2 linked regions of the Homo sapiens genome follow. The protein of the gene in region 1 binds, or shares a complex with, the protein of each later gene. Links are inferred from orthologs where the notes say so. Each region holds a gene or a part of one and is shown on either strand. Other genes may lie near its edges.

Evidence for each region.
Region 2: the proteins of NOTCH1 (region 1) and DLL4 are in contact, whole or in part, in a crystal structure (PDB 4XLW), measured with the Rattus norvegicus proteins. The link is inferred for Homo sapiens from one-to-one orthologs. Residues at the interface, in NP_001099191.1 of Rattus norvegicus: Glu415, Leu418, Ala420, Asn421, Pro422, Glu424, His425, Phe436, Pro447, Arg448, Glu450, Ile451, Asp452, Leu468, Asp469, Gln470, Ile471, Ile477; in XP_006234827.1 of Rattus norvegicus: His65, Thr76, Phe77, Asn109, Phe110, Thr111, Pro113, Tyr180, Ser186, Arg187, Leu188, Lys190, Arg192, His195, Phe196, Tyr199, Lys216, Tyr217, Asp219.

What each region holds. Positions count from the first base shown.
Region 1 is NC_000009.12:136,501,048-136,508,065, reverse strand, and holds part of NOTCH1 (neurogenic locus notch homolog protein 1 preproprotein), read left to right. Parts: coding exon 1-111; intron 112-628; coding exon 629-761; intron 762-1,092; coding exon 1,093-1,350; intron 1,351-1,426; coding exon 1,427-1,539; intron 1,540-2,184; coding exon 2,185-2,756; intron 2,757-2,961; coding exon 2,962-3,393; intron 3,394-4,735; coding exon 4,736-4,884; intron 4,885-5,577; coding exon 5,578-5,794; intron 5,795-5,977; coding exon 5,978-6,065; intron 6,066-6,152; coding exon 6,153-6,318; intron 6,319-7,018. UniProt on the Homo sapiens protein: Functions as a receptor for membrane-bound ligands Jagged-1 (JAG1), Jagged-2 (JAG2) and Delta-1 (DLL1) to regulate cell-fate determination.
Region 2 is NC_000015.10:40,924,984-40,932,339, forward strand, and holds the start of DLL4 (delta-like protein 4 precursor), read left to right. Parts: upstream 1-4,356; 5' UTR 4,357-4,685; coding exon 4,686-4,751; intron 4,752-4,863; coding exon 4,864-5,133; intron 5,134-5,641; coding exon 5,642-5,699; intron 5,700-6,519; coding exon 6,520-6,783; intron 6,784-7,187; coding exon 7,188-7,248; intron 7,249-7,333; coding exon 7,334-7,356. UniProt on the Homo sapiens protein: Involved in the Notch signaling pathway as Notch ligand. Activates NOTCH1 and NOTCH4. Involved in angiogenesis; negatively regulates endothelial cell proliferation and migration and angiogenic sprouting. Essential for retinal progenitor proliferation.

The DNA.
Region 1 (7,018 bases):
CAGGCGGGCTACACAGGCAGCTACTGTGAGGACCTGGTGGACGAGTGCTCACCCAGCCCCTGCCAGAACGGGGCCACCTGCACGGACTACCTGGGCGGCTACTCCTGCAAGGTGGGGGTCCCTCCTAGGGTAAGGGTTGTGGCCGGCACGAGTGTTGCCACACACCAGGCCCTGGCTGGGAGCTGGCCCAGTGGAGAAAACTGAACCTGATAGGCCCATGCACTGTTCAGTCTCATTAGGGGAGGGCTGGGGTAATCAGGGTAGACTGCCTGGAAGAGGTGGCCTGTGGAAAGCCTGAAGGAGGGTACCTATACTGAGAAGTGGGATGGGGTTTTCCCTTCCCCTAGATTGTGTCTGGGCTTGGCCAACACCTACCCTGAGGCCCTCACCTCTATCCTATGGGACGGGGTCCACCCACCCCCAACAGGCAGTGACTCCGGTCACCGAGGCCCCGCCAGGGTCTGTTGGGCTGGGTCTCTCTCCAGGTCTGACAGGAGCGAGGGGCCCGTGGCTTCGCTGGACCTGAGGGCAGCTCATGTGGCCCTGTCAGCCCTCACAGTGGGGTGTGGGAGCACTGCATCCTGGCGCCGGCTGAGCCGAAGGGCCCCTCGTTCTGTCGCCTGCACAGTGCGTGGCCGGCTACCACGGGGTGAACTGCTCTGAGGAGATCGACGAGTGCCTCTCCCACCCCTGCCAGAACGGGGGCACCTGCCTCGACCTCCCCAACACCTACAAGTGCTCCTGCCCACGGGGCACTCAGGGTAAGGGCCGCTGCACGGAGGGCTGGTGTTGGCCATCCATGGCCAGGGCAGGGGCAGGGCAGGCACCCCGGGACCGGCCAGAGGCATCCAGGAACCAGCCAGAAACTCCCATTTTCCTGTGTGAGGCCAAGGCCGACTCACAGCTGCCCAGGGAAAGGGCCCAGAGCGGGGGTCCCAGTGGGAAGGGCGTCTCCACGGCACCCTTGACACCTGCCTCTCCCGAGTGTCCGTGCAGCCCCAGACCTGAGCGCTCGTCTTCCGGGACGGACACGCGGCACGGCAGGGCCGGGGTGTGGCGGGCTTGGGCCACTGACGAAACCTGGCCCCGCAGGTGTGCACTGTGAGATCAACGTGGACGACTGCAATCCCCCCGTTGACCCCGTGTCCCGGAGCCCCAAGTGCTTTAACAACGGCACCTGCGTGGACCAGGTGGGCGGCTACAGCTGCACCTGCCCGCCGGGCTTCGTGGGTGAGCGCTGTGAGGGGGATGTCAACGAGTGCCTGTCCAATCCCTGCGACGCCCGTGGCACCCAGAACTGCGTGCAGCGCGTCAATGACTTCCACTGCGAGTGCCGTGCTGGTCACACCGGTGGGTGCCGCGCCCAGGCGGGTGGGGCGTGTGGGGCAGCAGGGTGAGCCTCTCACTGCCCTGCTCTTACCCCTAGGGCGCCGCTGCGAGTCCGTCATCAATGGCTGCAAAGGCAAGCCCTGCAAGAATGGGGGCACCTGCGCCGTGGCCTCCAACACCGCCCGCGGGTTCATCTGCAAGTGCCCTGCGGTAGGTGCAGGGGTGCAGGGAGGCAGGGGCCCGCCAGGGGAGACACCTGGAGAGGTCCACGTGGGGGCCTCGGGGCGCAGACCGGGCAGTGATCCTCCCGGCCTTCATCCTCCTCCTCACCCTGATGTCTTTTTTTTTTTTTTAGTTTCAATAAATGATTTTAGAGACATTTTAGATTTATAGAAAAATGGAGCAGGAAGTAGACTCCCTGGGGTGGCTGTCCCCTGCACGCAGTTCCCCTGGTTAGCAGCTTGCATCAATTTCACTCTGGATTTCAGTGATACATTGTTACCAACAGCAGCCCTTCCTGTACCTGGGGCTTGCCCTTGGCTTTGTGGTTGTGGGTTTGGGCTGAGGTATGACATGCCTGCCCACCCTCGCAGGATCACGGCAGAGAGTCCCTGCCCTAAAGTCCTCAGCACTCCACCAGTTTACCCCTTCCTCCATCTCCCGACCCCCTGGCACCCCCGATCTTTCTCTGTTGGTAGAATGTGTGTAAAGGGTTTTGCTGCTGGGGGCAAGGTTGCAGGCCGCCTCCCAGGTTAGAGGAGAGCGGTGGCACTGCTGGCCGAGGGCTGGGTGTGAGGTGGCGGGGGGGCGGGGGGTGGCCCACCCCGACACCGTCCTGTCTTCCCTCTCGGGCAGGGCTTCGAGGGCGCCACGTGTGAGAATGACGCTCGTACCTGCGGCAGCCTGCGCTGCCTCAACGGCGGCACATGCATCTCCGGCCCGCGCAGCCCCACCTGCCTGTGCCTGGGCCCCTTCACGGGCCCCGAATGCCAGTTCCCGGCCAGCAGCCCCTGCCTGGGCGGCAACCCCTGCTACAACCAGGGGACCTGTGAGCCCACATCCGAGAGCCCCTTCTACCGTTGCCTGTGCCCCGCCAAATTCAACGGGCTCTTGTGCCACATCCTGGACTACAGCTTCGGGGGTGGGGCCGGGCGCGACATCCCCCCGCCGCTGATCGAGGAGGCGTGCGAGCTGCCCGAGTGCCAGGAGGACGCGGGCAACAAGGTCTGCAGCCTGCAGTGCAACAACCACGCGTGCGGCTGGGACGGCGGTGACTGCTCCCTCAACTTCAATGACCCCTGGAAGAACTGCACGCAGTCTCTGCAGTGCTGGAAGTACTTCAGTGACGGCCACTGTGACAGCCAGTGCAACTCAGCCGGCTGCCTCTTCGACGGCTTTGACTGCCAGCGTGCGGAAGGCCAGTGCAAGTAAGGCTGCGGGGCTCATGGGGCTGAGGGAGGACCTGAACTTGGATGTGGCCTGGCTTGGGCCCGGAGGCCAGCATGCAGTTCTAAGGCTCTGCTCAGGGGGTGCAGGGACGTCCCCCGCGGCTGGCCAGTGGGCTGGAGGCACCGGACGGCGGGTGCGAGGCCCCCCGAGGAAGGCGGCCTGAGCGTGTCCCGCCCCCCACAGCCCCCTGTACGACCAGTACTGCAAGGACCACTTCAGCGACGGGCACTGCGACCAGGGCTGCAACAGCGCGGAGTGCGAGTGGGACGGGCTGGACTGTGCGGAGCATGTACCCGAGAGGCTGGCGGCCGGCACGCTGGTGGTGGTGGTGCTGATGCCGCCGGAGCAGCTGCGCAACAGCTCCTTCCACTTCCTGCGGGAGCTCAGCCGCGTGCTGCACACCAACGTGGTCTTCAAGCGTGACGCACACGGCCAGCAGATGATCTTCCCCTACTACGGCCGCGAGGAGGAGCTGCGCAAGCACCCCATCAAGCGTGCCGCCGAGGGCTGGGCCGCACCTGACGCCCTGCTGGGCCAGGTGAAGGCCTCGCTGCTCCCTGGTGGCAGCGAGGGTGGGCGGCGGCGGAGGGAGCTGGACCCCATGGACGTCCGCGGGTGAGTGAGACCCGGCGCCCACGGTCAATCCCCGCAACTCTCCTGGGCCCTCCCCGACGGCCTCCCTGCCCCTCACGGCCGGCGCCATGGCAAGCAGTACTCTCCCCACTTTATGGTAAAAGAGACGGAGGTTCCGAGAGGACCTGGGACTTCAGGGCCTGCGCAGGCAAGGAGTAGAGGCAGCATTCCAGCTCAGGGCCCTGACCCCACAGCCACACCCTTTTCCTGGGCCACTGCCTTCCCCTGGACAGGCGGCACTCCTGTGCCCAGTAGGTGATTTTGAGATTGAGCTGTGCCTTAGGCACTGGATACTACACTGATTAAAACTCAGCCCTCTGCCAGGCGAGGAGGCTCACACCTGTAATCCCAGCACTTTGGGAGGCTGAGGCAGGCGGAGCCCTTGAGCCCAGGAGTTCGAGACCAGTCTGGGCAACATAGGGAGACCTTGTCTCTGTTTTTTTTAAAAAAGTATTAAAAGAAGTAAAAAACAAAACACTCAGCTCTCCAGGGGTTCCCACAGGGCTGAACAGCCCCACCCCAGACAAGAATGCCGCTTGGTCATGGCGTCTGCCTGGCTTGGGCTGGAGAGGAGGCAGGTGGAGGTCCTGGGAGGGGGCATTGCTGGGCCTTGCAGTTGGAGGAGGAGCTGGTGGGGGTGGGGGGTCCCACGGTGGGAGAACACAGGCAGGAGCAGCTTGAGTGCAGGGGGCACCCCACAAGGCTCCCGCCCATGCCTACTCGATCTGGGGCAGCTGGACCCAGGAGCCAGGTTGGTTGTGCCCTTCGTGTGCCTGACCCTGGTGGGTTTGCCTGTCAGTTCTGCTGGCTTGGAGCAATCCTGGAGGTCAGAAGCATCATCTCACAGGCTGGATGGGATCCTGCTCACGGGAACCCAGTCCTGGGGAGCAGAGCTCACCCCCAGCCAGCCTCACCACACAGCCCACCACCGCTGCACCCACCCCCACCTCACGCCTGTGCTTCCTGCAGGGCCTGGGGATGGCTCCTGGGGGAGGACTGGGCTCCTGGCACATACTCTGTCCTGAGATGAGGAAACGTGTCTGTGGCACCAGCAGGAGCCAGAGAGGGTGTCAGGGCGGGCCAGGGAGAGCGCGTTGGTGGGTATCTGGGATGAGCCGTGATCAGCACTGGCCGGAGTCGGGGGGCTGGCACCAGTCCCCTGCAGGGTAGCTGCTGTCAGACCTGGCTTCCCACCACCCCAGGCTGCCTCACCATGTCCTGACTGTGGCGTCATGGGCCTCAGTGTCCTGCGGCAGCATCCCTGGCCGGTGGGCGGGGGAGGAGGAAGCCTCGGGTCCCAGCCCCTCTCTGATTGTCCGCCCAGCTCCATCGTCTACCTGGAGATTGACAACCGGCAGTGTGTGCAGGCCTCCTCGCAGTGCTTCCAGAGTGCCACCGACGTGGCCGCATTCCTGGGAGCGCTCGCCTCGCTGGGCAGCCTCAACATCCCCTACAAGATCGAGGCCGTGCAGAGTAAGTGTGGCCCCATCCCGGGAACAGGCTCTGCCTGCAGGGGGTGCCATCCCCCCGTGCCCCAGACACGCTGGCTGTTTGTGCCAGTTGCTACCCACGGGTGTGAGCGTTGCCGTCCGAGTTGGGGTAGGGCTTTTCTGGAATTTTCTGAATGGCACTCCGCCCCCACCTGCGGCGGTCACAGCTGCCGGTGGAGCCACCTGGGAACGAGTCCAGCCACGGGAAAGTGGGTGCCTGCTTCTCTCCCCACCCTTTCCTCCTGAATTTTCTTTGTTGGGTATTATTTCAAAATCATTACGGCTTTTTTTAAAGAAAAAAAAAGAGAGAGAGAGAAGAATTGATCGGTGTCATGTGAAGTGTTGAAGTTTGTATCTTGAAAATCCCTCTAAATCCTTTGTCTTAACAGCTCAGTGCGAGTGCAGCGATTTGAAGTTGACTAATCCTCCTTCCTTAAAGGAGAAAAAAGTAAAAGCCGTCTCCAGATAGAGTCGGCTGGTGCAGGAGAGAATTTAGCGATAGTTTGCAATTCTGATTAATCGCGTAGAAAATGACCTTATTTTGGAGGGCGGGATGGAGGAGAGTGGGTGAGGAGGCGCCCGGACGCGGAGCCAGTCCGCCGCCCCCCGGCCACCAGCCTGCTGCGTAGCCGCTGCCTGATGTCCGGGCACCTGCCCCTGGCCCCCGTGCCCGCAGGTGAGACCGTGGAGCCGCCCCCGCCGGCGCAGCTGCACTTCATGTACGTGGCGGCGGCCGCCTTTGTGCTTCTGTTCTTCGTGGGCTGCGGGGTGCTGCTGTCCCGCAAGCGCCGGCGGCAGCATGGCCAGCTCTGGTTCCCTGAGGGCTTCAAAGTGTCTGAGGCCAGCAAGAAGAAGCGGCGGGAGCCCCTCGGCGAGGACTCCGTGGGCCTCAAGTGAGCGGACGCCGCCCCTGCTTCTGGGTCCCCGGTGGGAGGTGGGACCTGGCCGAGCATCCTCACCGGGAGTCTGCCCCTCCCGACCCAGGGCCCACCTCCCACGCCAGGCCCGGGCCAGGGGTCTCTGGGGGCTTCCTAGGGAGCTCGCTCAGCCTCACTTCTCGACCCCTCACCCCCCAGGCCCCTGAAGAACGCTTCAGACGGTGCCCTCATGGACGACAACCAGAATGAGTGGGGGGACGAGGACCTGGAGACCAAGAAGTTCCGGGTGAGTCGCGAGGCTCCCGGGCTCCTGGGCTCCCGGGCACCTGCTGCCGGGCTGCCCTGACAGGCTCTGCTCACTCCCTCTATGTAGTTCGAGGAGCCCGTGGTTCTGCCTGACCTGGACGACCAGACAGACCACCGGCAGTGGACTCAGCAGCACCTGGATGCCGCTGACCTGCGCATGTCTGCCATGGCCCCCACACCGCCCCAGGGTGAGGTTGACGCCGACTGCATGGACGTCAATGTCCGCGGGCCTGGTAAGGGTGCCAGCAGCCAGGGCTTCCCTAGCCCCGTGGCCCACCTGCCTCTCTCCCCTAAGCCCCGAGGCTGGGGTACAGTTGATACTCTGGAAACTTAGAATTGGGGGTGAGAGCTTTCATCCTTGGGGTGTTTCCCATTCAGAGTAGACGTGGGGGGGTCCTGGAGTCCTCCTGTTCTTCCACCAACCCCTTCCTGGGGTGATACCGCAGGGCCACTCTGTCCCTGTAAATTACTCTTTTCTGAAACCTTCTTGAGACATGGAAAGCGTTGATTTTCTTTTTCTTTTTTTTTTTCTTTTTTTTTTGTTTTTGAGATGGAGTCTCGCTCCGTCACCCAGGCTGGAGTGCAGTGGCACGATCTCGGCTCCCTGCAACCTCCACCTCTCGGGTTCAAGCAATTCTCCTGCCTCAGCCTCCCCAGTAGCTGGGACTACAGGCGCCTGCCACCACACCTGGCTAATTTTTGTATTTTTAGCAGCGATGGGGTTTCACCATGTTGGCCAGGCTGGTCTCGAACTCCTGACCTCAGGTGATCCGCCCACCTCGGCCTCCCCCAGTGCTAGGATGACAGCGTGAGCCTCCGCATCCTGCTGAAGCATTAATTTTCTAACTGCATGCTTCTGGGGTCCTCTTTTTCCTGGGTGGATTTTGGGTGCCAGGTCTTGGGCAGGTCAGGAAGCAGTTGCCCGCCAGGAGT
Region 2 (7,356 bases), on another chromosome or scaffold:
TGCCTGGCTACTTTTTGTATTTTTTTTTGGTAGAGACAGGGTTTCACCATGTTGGCCAGGCTGGTCTCGAACTCCTGACCTCAAGTGATCTGCCCTCCTCAGCCTCCCAAAATGCTGGGCTTATAGGCATGAGCCACCACACCGGCCATCCCTATTATTATTATCCCATTGCACAGATGAGAAAACTGAGTGTAGAGCTAGAGTTAGGTTACAAGCCCAAGACCACATGGTTAGGAAGTGCCAAGAAGCAGGTCCATGTCAGGCTTATTCACCAGACTCACCTGGAGGGTGGGGAGAGACTCGTTCCTCCTGCCTCCTCCCCATCTCTGCTCAGTCCCCCTGACCAAGATTCTTCAGAGTTCGGTGTCCCTCAGCGCCCATGCCCTACCCCTTCCTTCTCACCGGGGCCCTTCTTATCATCAGTCACTGCATCCTGTTCCTCCCTTGAAGCCCCCAGATGAGTTCTCAAGGCCACCACCAAGTCATCACCTTCCTCACTCCTCTCTCCAGTCTCAGGCCTGTTCTATGGGGAACCCACTCTGTCCCGCGGGAAAAACCCTCAGCAGGCGGTTCCTTGTGGGGGCTCCAGAGAGAGGTGAAGGAGGCCACGCGGGGCACCGCCTGCTGAGCGGGAATCCCGTCCCTAACCGCTGGCGCCCCTCGAGGGGAGGGGCGAGGGCGGAGGTGGTTCTGCTGCGGCATCTGTCCCAGGCGGGCGGGAAGCTGCTGCATTAAATTGTAAAATCGATTTATTGACCGGCAGGTGCGAGCAGCGGCAGATGGAGAGTAGCCCTGCCGGGGCGCATCTGCGGGGAGCGGCGGCATCGATCCCGGCCCCCCTCTGAAACCCGTCGGTCCTGGGCCTTTCTCGCCAGCTCACTCCCAATTGTAGGGCCAAGGTCCTTGAAACTGCGGCGCCTGAATGGCTAGGGTAGCTCGACTCCCTCCCCCAACACCCTCCTGGCCTCAGGCCCCGGGCTGCGCCCCCACGGCTGCCAGGCTCTGCCAGTCCCACTGCCCCAGTTGGCACGCGGCGGGCCGGGCTGACGCGTGGCAGCGCCCTGCGGCAGATGAGGCACGCGCCGGCCTCATTTCAATGTGAATGGATCGAATGGAGCAGCCATGTGGCAGCAACAGTTTGCAAATCTCCACGCCTTCTGTGCAGCTCCCCGGCCGCCGCTCCCTGCACGTGGCCCCTTCTCCGCAGCGACCGCAGCGGCGCCCCTCAAGGCTTAAGCGCCCCGCCCAAGCCAGGCCTGCTTCCCCGCCCCTGGTCTGCCCAGCAGGCACGGTGGCCCGGCCCCCACCGCGCTCCTACCCGGGTGCAGTGTGCCCCGCGAAGAGCGCCGTCCCCTGAGAGGGGGTTGGGGAGAGGAGAGGCAAAACCGCGCTGAAGGTCTCGGAGCTGCGCCTGCGGCCGTGGGGAGGGCACAGAGGCTACGCTGCGGGGGAGGAGTCCCGAGGCTCTACGAGGCTCCTGTTGCGCCCCAATAACCTGGGGTCAGCTTGGGGACACCGCTGGAAGGCGACCTTAGCGCTTCCCGGTCCTCAGTGCCGGTTCTTATGGCTGGAGGACTATGCGCAATGGCCAAGCGTAGGGGGACAGCAGAAGCAGAAGGCCTCTAGGGGCAGAGGCGGTGGGCCTTTCATGAAGCCAGGCCTCGACCCTGCGCCCGCTTCCGACGTTGGGGAGTGTTGAGGGTGCGGGTCGAATTGAGGAACCCTGGGCCTGCGGAGGGTCAGTGGTCTTTCGGACTCTGGGTCTATCTGTGCACCCTTTCCATGCTGTTGTGGAGGGTCTGCGTCAGGGGCGGGGGCAGCCGACTTCGATGGGGGTCCAGCCCCACGGTGATCGGTGGCCTCCCATCCCAGGACCACGCGTGTAGCGTTCTTCCGCCCGCAAGTCCGAAAGTCCCGAGTGGGAGAAGAAGGAAGGCGCAGCCCCAGTTTTGGGCTGACAGAAACACTTGCGGCCTTCGCACTGGGCTCCCCACCCGCAGCATGACCCTCTCCTGCTCAGCAAATGTGGGCAAAGCTCGACCGCAGCGTGTGGGAGCGCTCGTAGGTACCCAGGGCCAAGGGTGGCAGTGTCCTAGCCCGGGAATGAGCTTCTGGGACAGCGCCTCCGCAAATAGGTGTTTCATGAATGTCTTTTGATGCTGAGAATTTAACCCTTTCCTCTTCTGGTCAGAGCCTTTCTAGATCTCTGGGATCTCCTGGGTGCTGCCTCTCTGAAGATAATAATCCCAACTTTTGTTTGGTCCTTGATAATTTGCAAAGTACATTTGGGCACATTAGTCTGGGCGTGTATGAGGGTAGAGAGTGTTCCAGATTTTCCAGTATTGGGAGAGATGCCTTGTGTGGGACTAGATGTCTCCCTTGAGGGTCAGGTAAGCAGGACCAGCGCCAGAAAAGGAGGATGTTTTTATTAACTCCTGGGCCAGGATTTGGAGTTGAGAGAGGACAGGGCTAGGTAGGGCTGGATGCCAGCTTGGAGGGGAGCAAGGGGCACCCGCTGGCATCTTAGAGAGGCAAGTCCAGGGATCCATAGGGTATAGGCGGAGAGAAGATCTGGGAGCCCACTTGCCAGGATCGCCGGGAGGCACGCCCCGGACTCCCCCTCCCTCGGGCCTGGGACTCCGCCTGCCCATAACCTACATTAACTCCCGAGCGCAGCCTGGGCCCATCTGCCGCCCCGCCCCACCTCGGTTCCCCACGCCAACCCGCTCGCGCCAGATGGTGGCTGGGAGGGGTGGCCGTGCGTGGGGGACCCCGGAGCCCGTCTCCTCACCTCGCCCCTCCCCCAACCCACGCTCCCAACCTCTTGTTTCTCATCCTTCCCCCCCCCACCACACCCGTCCCCCAGTCCTCCACCACCACCACCCAACTCAAAAAAAAAAATCAGACCATGCTCGGCATTGGCAGCTGTTGGGCTTCTCGCCGCTCCCCCACCCTTACCGCCTCCCCCGGGTTCGCGCCGCGTCCCGGCTCCCCCCCCGCGCTGATCTTACCGCCCGACTACAGCCATCACCTCGCGGGCGGGCTGACAGCTGAAGCCACAGGGCCCCCGCTGCCCTCGGCGTCGCAAAGAGAGAGCTCCCCGGCACCCCTGAGACTGGGAGAAGCCGGCCCTCCCCGGTCTGCGGTCTCCGGGGATCACGCCGGGTTCCGAGAAAGCAGCTGCGCTGCTGCCGCTTGGAGGAGTGGGGCCACCCAGGGGACCCTCTCGGGCGAGACTTGGGAAGCCGCCTGAAACTCAAACAGCTCCGCAAGCCTCCAGTTCCACCCCACATCCCGCCTTATGAGGCGAGGACCCGGGCCGACCCGGCCTCAGTCCCTCACCTTGATTCTCCAGTGGCCTGAGCCAACTCTGGCGTCAGGAGAGTTCCTCCTTGCCCCAGCTGAGCGACAGGGCGCGGCCGGGGGCTTGGGGCTGCTGGGGTGGGGGGAGGCAGTGGGCGCAGGAACTGAAGCTGGACTCAGGTGAGGGGACGCGCTGGAGGCGGGGCCAGAACCTCATTACCATACAGCTGAGGACGCGCCCCCCTCCTACCTCCGGGACCACGCCCCGCCCTCCCCCACCTCAGGGACCGCGCGTCTGGGTCTCTGGCACGCGCCAAGCCCTGGCAGGGGGCAGAAGGGAGAAGGCACGCGCTGGGCACGCCCCCCCTTAGCTAGAGAGGGAGACGCCCAACAGGTGCACAGAGAGGGCCCCGAGCCTTAGACCCTTAGCCCCTAGCCTTGCTCAGAGTGGCCACAGAGAGGTTAACGCTTCTGCTGGCTTCCCTGCTGCGCTGGGGACGCGTGGTGGGTGGGCACTCATAGGTTGGGGGCCGTTGAGACAAGGGCTCCAGAAGCTCCAGGAAGGAAAAGGAGATCGGATTTCCCTAGCGCTGGTTTTTGCATTCCGGGCTTAAGTTCTTTTTACCTGCTTTGGAACACTAGGTAACTAGCGCCTGCTGCGGATGCACAGCCTACAGGGACTGCCTAGTGTCTCCGCCCCCAAGACCATCCCCGAACCACCCACTCACCTCCTGCCCCATTACCGGGCAACCCCTCTATCCTCCGGCGGCCAGGGTCTCAGCCCTTAACCCCGCCATCACGGAGGACTGGTCACCTCGGCACGCGCAGAGCTGGGGGACCTAGAGGTTGGGAGCGGCACGGAGGGGCGGGGACCTGCGCCCGACTGGCTGACGGGGAGGGGGGAGCGGCGGGGGCGGAGGCCCCCTCCGGGCGGCGCTGGGACTGTAGCAGCTAGAGGCCGGGAGGGGAGGGGAGAATGACCATGAGTCTGAGTGACAGGCGGCGAGGAGAGGAGCCAATATATATAAGGAAGGCCCCCAGCGCGCAGGTTTCAGTAGCGGCGCTGCGCGCAGGCCGGGAACACGAGGCCAAGAGCCGCAGCCCCAGCCGCCTTGGTGCAGCGTACACCGGCACTAGCCCGCTTGCAGCCCCAGGATTAGACAGAAGACGCGTCCTCGGCGCGGTCGCCGCCCAGCCGTAGTCACCTGGATTACCTACAGCGGCAGCTGCAGCGGAGCCAGCGAGAAGGCCAAAGGGGAGCAGCGTCCCGAGAGGAGCGCCTCTTTTCAGGGACCCCGCCGGCTGGCGGACGCGCGGGAAAGCGGCGTCGCGAACAGAGCCAGATTGAGGGCCCGCGGGTGGAGAGAGCGACGCCCGAGGGGATGGCGGCAGCGTCCCGGAGCGCCTCTGGCTGGGCGCTACTGCTGCTGGTGGCACTTTGGCAGCAGGTAACACGTCCCGCGCCCTCTCCGTCCCCTCTGCCGCGCTCTGGGCCTCAGCCCCGGGCACCAGCTGAGCTGACCGGTCCCCTCCCTCCTTCCCTCGGTCCCTGTGCAATAGCGCGCGGCCGGCTCCGGCGTCTTCCAGCTGCAGCTGCAGGAGTTCATCAACGAGCGCGGCGTACTGGCCAGTGGGCGGCCTTGCGAGCCCGGCTGCCGGACTTTCTTCCGCGTCTGCCTTAAGCACTTCCAGGCGGTCGTCTCGCCCGGACCCTGCACCTTCGGGACCGTCTCCACGCCGGTATTGGGCACCAACTCCTTCGCTGTCCGGGACGACAGTAGCGGCGGGGGGCGCAACCCTCTCCAACTGCCCTTCAATTTCACCTGGCCGGTGAGCACAGCCTGGGCGCACTGGGAGGTCGCAGAAGCCGAGAGAGGAGGCGCCCTGGGACCAAAGCCCCCTCCCCAGATTTCCTTGTACACACACCCCCACCCCCAAAAAGCCCAGGATGCATTCTTTCCTGGCTCTTCCCGACTCTCTCCTGAGACTGATCCCAGAAAAGGCTCTCACCAGTCTCCGTCTTCCCAGTTTATGTCCTCCCGTCCCCAGCTCTTGGGACACGATTTTCATTACCTACCACTCTGGGGCGGTACCCTACCACCCCCTCCTCCAGTGGCTCTCCCTTACACTCTCCCGTCTCTCAACCCTCCCTCTACCGGGGGTTCTCCTCTCGCCTTCCCTGCTCAAGCGCTACACTGTGCACAGCCCCGTTATGTTGACCCGGGCGCAGTAACTGAATCCTGCAATTAGATTAATTAAACAGGCTGCCGCAAGGCACCCCCACCTCTCCCCGCTTGCTCATCTCGCCATCTCTCCGTCCCCCCACCCCCTTTCCCAGGGTACCTTCTCGCTCATCATCGAAGCTTGGCACGCGCCAGGAGACGACCTGCGGCCAGGTGAGTAGCTCGCTCCGCCACCACAGGGGGGCGACACGGCGCAGCGCCGAAAGAGTTAATCTGTTCTAGGCGGGGGAAGTGCGGGCTTGGGGGTGGGAGGCAGGACGCTTAGCTTGGCCTGGAGCTGCGCCCCGCGCTGGACGCTCGGATTCCGCTCGCTGCCTGGACTCAGAGCACAATTGCGTTTCCTGCGGGTTATTTTTGGCGTGGGAACGCGGGGAGTACGGCGGTGAGAAAGGCTGAAGCTGCCAGCGCCGCTGACGGGCCCCTTCCTGTATTTTACACCTTTCGCGAATTCCGCTCCTTTGGAAAGGGAATAATGGCTTTGGGATGTTGTTCTGACACAGAGGAAAAGGATATTTCAGCAGCACAACAATTCTCACTTTGAAAAGGAAAAAAGAAAACCATTACCCACCTCTGGAGGCAGAACCCCTGAATGGGCACCAAAGGACCCCCTGCTCCCAGGGTCCTCTCTAGCCTGGGGAGCTTTTCTTTCTTTTTCTCTTTTTTCCATTTTGACCTCTTTTCCTCTTTCCCCTCCCTATCTGCCTCCAAGACCCTGGGATATCTTAACATCCTTCTATTGTCCCCTTTTTGAATACTATCAGGCCCCCTGCACATGCACACACGTAGGGCAGCTACGTAGCGGGGCTTTGGGTCCCTCTGGCCTGTTCTTGCTGGCAGGCGGGGGTCATCTGGATAACTGGGCTGATTGGTTGGCTGATCACCATCATCACAGCCAAGAAGGACATTGGCCAGCCGTCACTGGCACCCTTGGGGACTGGCGACCCTTCCCTGACCCGACCCTCTGCCCCCTCAGAGGCCTTGCCACCAGATGCACTCATCAGCAAGATCGCCATCCAGGGCTCCCTAGCTGTGGGTCAGAACTGGTTATTGGATGAGCAAACCAGCACCCTCACAAGGCTGCGCTACTCTTACCGGGTCATCTGCAGTGACAACTACTATGGAGACAACTGCTCCCGCCTGTGCAAGAAGCGCAATGACCACTTCGGCCACTATGTGTGCCAGCCAGATGGCAACTTGTCCTGCCTGCCCGGTTGGACTGGGGAATATTGCCAACAGCGTAAGCAGTCAAGCTCCCACCTGTGTGGAAGGGGAGGGTCCCCTGAGGAAACACAGTGGAGCTTCTTGGTCACAGCTTGCCTCCCTTGAAGAGTGGGTCTGGGCCTCCTACTAGCTGGGCCTCAGGGATGCTGAGGGTGGGCTTGACCTCAGACCTCCTGTCTCTTCCCAGTGCTCCTCCCATCATGCCAAAGCCCACAAGAACCCCATCATGACATTCCATCCAGTTTGGCTTCTCCTTCCCTGTGCCATTATTTCACTTTAAGACACTCGGGGCTCCTCTGGGAGGCCAGGAGTAGGAAGAGGGCCCAGGAGAGCTAGGGGATCCCCAGGGCCAGCAGGTGAGAATGGGGCTTAAGAGTCCTTGGTATCCCAGCCTCACCCAGCTCTGTGTTCTTCCCTTAGCTATCTGTCTTTCGGGCTGTCATGAACAGAATGGCTACTGCAGCAAGCCAGCAGAGTGCCTGTGAGTAGGGGACAGGAAGTGGTGAGTGGGAGCCCTCCCTTGGCCAAGGCCTCTCACCTCACTCTGCCTCTCTCTTGTTCCCCAGCTGCCGCCCAGGCTGGCAGGGCC